Regions from separate parts of the Homo sapiens genome. Here region 2 is linked to region 1. The links come from fine-mapping of genetic effects on gene expression. A gene starts in region 1. The other region holds a variant in brackets. All regions are shown on one strand. Distances are between the middles of the regions. Region 1 holds the start of DKK2 (dickkopf Wnt signaling pathway inhibitor 2). Region 2 has its middle 260 kb from the start of PAPSS1.

Region 1 (4,401 bases):
TAACTGTATTTGTAAAAAATTGCTTTTGGAACTTGCGGGGTTTGAATAAGCCTCTGAGATAATGTGTTTAGGATGGTACTCAGAGCTGAGAGTAAATGTGTTGTGCTTGATATATGTTTTCTGTTTAGCAGTACATGTGAGTAAAGTTAGGCCTGTGTATGTGGGATATTATTTTATTTAGAGGTAAAGAAAGAAGGAAGTGACAGAAATAGGCAAAGCATCTTCACATTTTCTCATGGTTCATTTGGGTTTGTTCTTCAACATATGGTCAAAGTCTACACCCTTCCAAGTGAATGTAGAGTGATCTGTTGCCTACATGTTTAGCTTCTATCTTTTCCTTTTGCTCTAAGCTACTTTTCAAAAATATTTAAACCAGTATACTCCTAACTTAAGTTTCTCAATTTCTGTCATGCTTTCTGATTGGCAAATCAGAATGAAGGCAAAAGATATACTCTTCTGTAAAGTCTAAGCTTGGAATCGTTAAGTACTTATTTATAGAGTAACGACCCATTTCCTTGCCTTTTATTAGTGCCTAGAATGCCTCACTTAACTTTATAAACTTACAAATTTATTACTGGGCATATATAGATGTTAAATGTTCTTACTACAATCATGTTATATGTATAAATACATATATATATTATACATGTATATAAAGTCACACACATATAAAATTTATATCTATATAGCATGAGATCTACCTTCTCAATAAGTTTTTAAAAATACAATGCATTATTGTTGGCTATAGGTACAATACCATATGACAAATCTCTAGAGTTTATTCATCTTAGTTAACTGAAACTTTATGATCATTGATATAGTAACTCCCCATTCTCCTCTCCTTCCAATTCCTGGTAACCATCATTCCAACCTTTGATTCTATGCATTTAACTATTTTAGGTACCTCCTATAAGTGGATTTGTCTTTCTGTGATTGGTCGAGTTCACTTAGTATGATGTCCTTCAGGGGTCACCCATATTGTTATTCCTGGCATATTTTTAAAAAGTGGAAAAAAAACCCCACACACTAAAATGTGAAAAATCTCTACCTTAAAGAAAGGAAATTCAAAAGATAAGAACACATGCCAGAGGGTGCATATTTTAATCCCCGTTTCCTTGTGTATTAAAAAAAAAATCTGAAAATGAAGAATTTCAGGGCAGACAGACTCATAGGTCAGGACTGAGAAATTTGCAAAACTGGAGCTGTCTGGGAGAAAATAGCTCTAAATCCACACTTTAGAACTCTGCGTTGTTTTGGGGGAAAATAAGAGTCACCAACGTTCTCACTTAGCGACAAGTTTAATTCGTACTCATGGACATGCGCCAGGATCAGGTGTGAAAGCTGTGAAATCTAGGTCCAAAAATTCTGAAGAGGATGCTGCTTGTATCCTCCCCTGGCGGCTAGCTGCCTTCTAACTTCAAGTTGTGGCTCAATGCTTGGATTTCTCTGCTCCTGGACATTAGTGTCTGCGAAGCAGAAATGCAATAACTTTCGAACAATCCCTTGCTTTGCTTGGAAAGTCTCGCACTTGGCCACCAGACATCACCGAACTCAGCGCTTGTCTCCTGCAGCAATTCCGTGGCTCGCTGAACGGCTGCCACTGGCGCCCCCAAGCGCCAGCGCGTCCCAGTCGTTCCCGGAGCAGCCTTCGACCTTCGGCCGAAGGGAATTGGACCTGGAGAGACCCGGGGGCTGACAGGAATGGCTTCTCTTGTAATTCACTGGGGCTAGAAGGCAGGAAGCCAAGGAAGACAGGATCTCAAAGGCTCCCTGCCCCCGTTCATTCCTATCTGGGATTTCCTATTCGCAAAAAGAGCAGTTGCCTGGCATGGTAAAGATGCTCATTCGAGCTGTGAGGTCCAAACCCTTGGAGCGTACCCAGAGCATCCCCTTCTTCCCAGTCCCTCAGAGACATAGACATATTCTACGAGTGCGGCGGGGCCCGGGGTTCCGAAGGAGGAGACTAAAAAGACCCAAATCGAACAGGCTCATCTTTTCCCCTCTTTGGTCTGCCCCTTTCCTTCCAGACCCTCTATCCGGATCATTGGCCACCCCCTGGCGCACCTATGTGGCTCCAGCTTCACACACTCCCTGGGAGGCACAGTCTAAAACCAAACGTGAGCTCACAAAGAACACAATACTAATGAGCAGATGCGCAGATGCTCACTTCTCTAAAGCTTCCATAGGGCTTTTCCAGCTCTCCTCGCGGAGTCAGGGGCTGAAGATGGGTGGGAAGATCTAAGAAAGGGTGGCAGCGATCAAGTGGTGTCAGCTTGCCCCACTCCGTTTCCACCTTTGGTCTCTGCCAGTTTCCAAAGACCCCTCCAACCGCTGGAGTTGTTGTCAGGAATTAGGAGCCCCTATGTTCCATTCACCTCATGGAAAAGCTAGATCCCCCTTTTCCAGTAGTTGTGGGTGGAGACAGAGCGGGAGGATGAGGAGGAGGAAAAGCTGGAGTGAAAGCCGCAGAAGCAGAAGCAGCACGCAGAGAGGAGGGGGGCGGAAGCGGTGGGGAGTGAGAGAAAAATTTTCACTCTTTGTCACTCTTGAATTGGGGGCGGAGGTAAAAAAAAAAAAAAAGTCCTCACTGTGGGAAGCTATAAAAAGCAAAGAGGACTGGGGAGAGAGCAGAGAGAGAGAAAGCGGGAGCCCGCGGCGAGCGTAGCGCAAGTCCGCTCCCTAGGCATCGCTGCGCTGGCAGCGATTCGCTGTCTCTTGTGAGTCAGGGGACAACGCTTCGGGGCAACTGTGAGTGCGCGTGTGGGGGACCTCGATTCTCTTCAGATCTCGAGGATTCGGTCCGGGGACGTCTCCTGATCCCCTACTAAAGCGCCTGCTAACTTTGAAAAGGAGCACTGTGTCCTGCAAAGTTTGACACATAAAGGATAGGAAAAGAGAGGAGAGAAAAGCAACTGAGTTGAAGGAGAAGGAGCTGATGCGGGCCTCCTGATCAATTAAGAGGAGAGTTAAACCGCCGAGATCCCGGCGGGACCAAGGAGGTGCGGGGCAAGAAGGAACGGAAGCGGTGCGATCCACAGGGCTGGGTTTTCTTGCACCTTGGGTCACGCCTCCTTGGCGAGAAAGCGCCTCGCATTTGATTGCTTCCAGTTATTGCAGAACTTCCTGTCCTGGTGGAGAAGCGGGTCTCGCTTGGGTTCCGCTAATTTCTGTCCTGAGGCGTGAGACTGAGTTCATAGGGTCCTGGGTCCCCGAACCAGGAAGGGTTGAGGGAACACAATCTGCAAGCCCCCGCGACCCAAGTGAGGGGCCCCGTGTTGGGGTCCTCCCTCCCTTTGCATTCCCACCCCTCCGGGCTTTGCGTCTTCCTGGGGACCCCCTCGCCGGGAGATGGCCGCGTTGATGCGGAGCAAGGATTCGTCCTGCTGCCTGCTCCTACTGGCCGCGGTGCTGATGGTGGAGAGCTCACAGATCGGCAGTTCGCGGGCCAAACTCAACTCCATCAAGTCCTCTCTGGGCGGGGAGACGCCTGGTCAGGCCGCCAATCGATCTGCGGGCATGTACCAAGGACTGGCATTCGGCGGCAGTAAGAAGGGCAAAAACCTGGGGCAGGTAGGAAAACCCCCAAACACATTCTTCAGACAGAAGAGGCAGGGGCCAGCTCTCTTGGGCTAGCGGTTTGCCATTGCATCTTGCAACATTCGGAGCGTGGCCCCAGATACAGAGAACAGGCGGCTGGGGAGGGATTCACCGAACAGGGTCTGCGTGGGCGGGGGGTGTCTGGGTGGCTGCTGGTCCTGCACTGCACGGAGTCAAAGGGTTAGGATTCTGTCTCGCCTTTGCTCTGGGGCGTGGGCACATATCAAGATCTAGTGCTTTCCTGTGGAGAAAGTGGTCAGGATGGTCCTTCCATTTAACACTGTGATGCAACTGATGAAGATGTTAATAGCATTTAACCTATAGCACCTAATAACGTGCCAGGCACAGTTCTAAGCGTTTTACATATTCACTCATTTAATCTTCACAACTCTGTGAGCTAGATGCTGTTGCTTTCCCATTCTGCTAATGAAGTAATTGAGGCACGGATTGATTAACGATTTGCCCAAGGCACACAGCTAGTATAAGTGGCAGAGAGGGATTTCAGTCTAGACATTGAGATACTGGGCGTTTAACCATTATATTTTACAATCTGGAGGGGACATTACTCCTTTTCAGGGTCTCCTTCCCTTCCAACCACTTACTCTCTTCAAAGAAGTAAGGTCACAGACAAAACAACTCCAGTAGACGCGCATTTCTCACTCACGCAGAATTGTACATAAATCACCCGGAAGGAAGCAAAATGATGAGATGACAATGACAGCGTCGTAGGCGCCAGCGATACAGCAGGACACTGAAGGCGTTTTTGAGAGAGGGAACTTTCCGCAGGCGCCTCTGTCTCTGTCA
Region 2 (4,401 bases), 420 kb before region 1:
ATGTCGGAGAGAGAGATTGATTGAGTTCCATGTTTAGGGAATTGAAGAGTGATTGAGACTGGTTAGTCCTCTGTCAGTTGTCTGTCCAGGCTCCTCTGTCCTCGGAGCCTACATTCTAAGAGAACCACAGGAAGTTTATAAACAAGGTAAATTCAGAGTGTCAGGTACATAGATGGAAATGAAACCATGATGAGATGGAGATTCACAGGGGTGGAATGGATGTACATACTTTAGATCAGCGGTTCTCAACCTTTTTGGCACCAGGGATCAGTTTCATGGAAGACAGTTTTTCCATGGACCAGGGGGTGGGGGGAACATTAGATTCTCATAAGGAATGTGCAATCTAGATTACTCACATGTGCAGTTCACAATAGTGTTCACCTTCCTATGAGAATCTAATGCTGTCCCGCTGATCTTACAGGAGACAGAGCTCAAGTGGTAATGCTGGTTCACCTGCTCACTGACTGCTGTGTGTCTAGGTTCCTGACAGGTCACAGATTGGCATCGGTTCACAGTCTGAGAGACCCCTGCCTTAGATGAAATGGTTACAGAAACTCTCTCTGAGCAAGTGACATTTGAACAGAGATCTAAATATTGAGAAGGAGGCAGCCATGCAAAGTTTTGGTAGAAGACCATTCCAGGTAGAAGGACATTACAGGAAAAGGAATCAGAGATTAGCAGGTTAAAGGGTCCTGAGACACACTGGCTTGGGTGGTTCAAGGAATACAAAGTATAACCAGCATGGCTAGAGCATAATGAGCAGGAGAGAATGTGGCCAGAGGCAAGATTAAAGAGAGAGGCAGAAGTCAGACTACATGACCTTGCAAATTAGGTTAAGGGATTTGGATTTAGTGCAGGGTTTCTTCACAGCAGCGCTATAAAGATTTAGACCAGATTTGTTGTTGTGGGGCTGTCCTGTGCATTGTAGGATGTTTACCAGCATTTCTGGCCTCTGTCCACTAGAAACCAGTAGCATTCATTCCTGAGTTGTTACAGTTAAATGTGTCTGTAGACATTGTCTAATGTCCCTGGGGAGGCAAATTGCCAGAGATTGAGAACCACTAATTTAGTGTATTTTCAGTAGGGAATAATATGATCTGATTTACATTTTAAAAATATAATTTTGGCCAATTTGTGGAGAATGGAGTATAGAGTAAGCACTCAGTCAATGCATGTTGAGTGAATAGATAAATTTATTATTGTTGTTCCAGTACAACCATTGCTACCATGAACAGTTACAGGATATAAGATCCACAGTCAATATAATAATGGCTTTGACTTCACTGGATAATGAGCTGTATGTAAGACATTGTTGGTTATTGGAAGTTGATACTGTCAATAGTGTAGGACAGTCCTTCATAGTCCTTAATACAGACTGAATAGTCCTTAAGTACAGACTGAATCATTAGTTTATTCTACATTACAGCAAAGTCCTGAAACTAATAAAGTTTAAATTTCACATTTTTTCAACTTCAGATGACTAGGTCTCATCCTAAACTTGATTACAGAAAAACATAAGTTCATCTGTGAACTATTGTCAGGGCAAGCAGTGATTATTTCCAATAACAGATAAAAAGCCATCTTCTTTTTTGTTCTGCATTCTAAAATACATTCTCTCTGAGCACCCAAATCTTTTAACTTGAGTTTATAAAATTGGCTTGCATCCAGTGTTTTTTTTTTCAATCAATTTTTAAAATTTGGAATAATTATTGAGGCTAACCGTTGTATTATATCCATCTGCCCACTAAGGAATCAAAAGTGTACAAAAGAGACAGAAGACACAGTACCCTAGTGATAGATGAATGGCAAAATGTTTGGAGGCTCCAGTTTGAATATTTCTCTGTTTTTTTTTTTTCTGGTGGATGAAGAACTGTGGTGGATATCTCATAAGAATTGATTTTACTTTGATGTGTGTTTACTTTCTCCTTCCACG[G/A]ATTAGAAATACTACAAATAAAAGTGTTTCCTATGATACTTTCACATATCTTATTCTAGCTCCAGGAAAAAACAACATATGTGAAATACGTAACTATAAAAGACCCCATCTGAAACATGATCGGTCTTCAGGGATGTTTGAGGCCTTTCGAGATTTAGGTAAAAGCTAAAGTCTTCCCATTTTTTTGTTAAACCTAAATTATAATTGGCTTCAGGTGGCTGCATTGGTTTGTCAAAGGATTATCATTCCCAGAGCTTCTCTTGGTTCATGATATCTGGGTACTTTGGTGAACTCTACTACCTTACATAAAGTGTCTTTTCTGAAAAAAAATTTTTAATGTTGATTTATGTTAGAAGTTAGTTTGAAGGGGGAAAAACCGTGGCAAAGGAAATAAAAACATTAAATGTGATCAAACTTCTTAAATTGAACTTTGTTAAACTCAAATGAGATTTCTAGGAAACATTGAGAAAGGGGAGTATTCTTTATCAGTAACTGGAGAGCATTCTATAGGAAAATGACTTTTTTTCATTGTGTGTGTGTGTGTGTGTGTGTGTGTGAAAGAGAGAGAGAGAGAGAGAGAGAGAGAGAGAGAGAGAGAGAGAGAGAGAGGTGTCTCATTCTGTTGCCCAGGTTGGAGTGCAGTGGCGTGATCTCGGCTCACTGCAACCTTCACCTCCTGGGCTGAAGTGATTTTCCTGCCCCAGCCTCCTGAGTAGCTAGGACTACAGGCATGCACGACCCCGCCCAGCTAATATTTGTATTTTTTTTGTAGAGATGGTGTTTTGCCATGTCGCACAGGCTGTTCTAGAATTCCTAGACTCAAATGATCAGTCCACATCATAATCTTTTTCAATTATTTGATAATCCTCAGTGAACTAACATCTGTGAAAATAATTTAATATAACAATGCCTCCTTTTGTCATTTAAAATCATTATATAATTTTCTATATATCTACTTTATTCCAGTTTAAATATAACAACAAAATACCATTGAATCACGGATAAATCTCCCATAGTACTAGAAAGAAATAAATTTTGCTGCCAATACTCCAGTTAGGTAAATAAGTAGAGGCATTTAATAAGTTATCTGCATTTTCTAGTTTCTCACATGCTTTTTAAGATGAATAAACAAATAAATATTGAATGTTCTAGGTTGAAGCAATTCCAAATAAGGCATCAATATTTGATTTCTACTCTAAGCCAATAAAAAATGTTTTGCAATCACTTTTACTTCAAAAAATCACTAGATTTTTTTGCACTCACTTTTATTTCTTTCCCTGACAGGAACATATAATACTTTGCTCATGCTGGGATCCAAGAATCATTATCAAGGTTCTGTTTCCAGTTTAATAAAATGTATATTTTCATTGGGAAATTCCAACCCAACTAATTGTCTTGGAACGTAAAATGTGATAGGTGTGACCTAGTTATACGAAGCCTGTTTGTTCTTTCTTTTGGGTTTTATGCTCCTTACTGTGGATGGGCAAGAAAAAGCTCACATGTGAGTATTCAACAGTAGAAAAAATATGTAGGTTTGCATGAGGTATTATAGTCACCTCAGGGAAAAGGGGCTAAGTCGTCTAAGGGGCTGGAGACTCCATATAATGGAGAGATGGCAAGAACAATGTAAATGAGGAAATGGGTTGTGCCCACTACAGGGAGAAAGGACTATTGAACAATTTAACTAAAATCTCTTAAGATAAAGTAATCCTTGTGACATGAGAGATAAAGATTGAACTGATTATATTTTTAAATTAAAAGACATAATCGGTGATAATATGTGCTAATAAAATTAAGAGACCAGATGTTTGTGTGTTTTTTTGGTCATGAAGTTTGAATAATTAGTTTCACCACACATCCCAAGTAGATCCCATATCTGGAAATATGCAGTTTACACTGTCCCTTTGCCAGCATATCACAAAGTCACTGGAGAATGTGCTCCCTGGCTCTGCCAGTTCTTTTATCTGGCTTCCTGCTCCCTTCCCGTAGGACTTCATCAAGGGGGCCTGCTCTGTCACCCACCCCCAACCCCAAACAGCTCAGGTTCTCCCATGAGAAGTTCTCACAGTTCCCTGTGCTTTTCTATAAGTTATCTCATATGTGTTTAAATATTTATGTTGTAATTATTTATTAATGTCTAGCTTCCCTCATAGACTATATGATCTATCAGGGCTAGAGTTTTTTTTTTGGTCATATTTGCCACAAATGTCCCCATTTCTTGGGTCCATGATTGTCTCTTGTGGCCCTAAACTTGGCTATGTATAAATAAATGACACATTCCTTACTCCACCACATTTAAAACTGTCCAAACAGGTATTTTACTAAAACTTATATAATTTTTGTCTCTAGGTAAAATTTTTCTTATTTGTATTTTTGGATCCTGAGCTAAGCTGTACTCTGCTCTTTGATTGTGCTTCCTATTTTAATTCATTTTTAAATAAAAAAAATAAAGTTCTGTAATCCAGAGC

The links. PIP is the estimated chance that this variant, and not a neighbour inherited with it, causes the effect. A credible set is the group of variants that fine-mapping cannot tell apart.
Region 2: its variant is the best candidate, but not a certain one, in a credible set for the expression of DKK2 in lung (TOPMed, PIP 0.54).

Annotation. Positions count from the first base shown.
Region 1 is chr4:107,034,539-107,038,939 of GRCh38, reverse strand. DKK2 (dickkopf Wnt signaling pathway inhibitor 2) reads left to right here and starts at 2,627. Exons shown (of 4, transcript NM_014421.3): 1 at 2,627-3,570. The coding sequence starts at 3,349.
Region 2 is chr4:107,453,603-107,458,003 of GRCh38, reverse strand. No RefSeq gene overlaps it. Among named protein-coding and RNA genes, the nearest start is that of PAPSS1, 260 kb to the left of the region's middle. The variant G/A (reference allele first, on the strand shown) is at 1,934.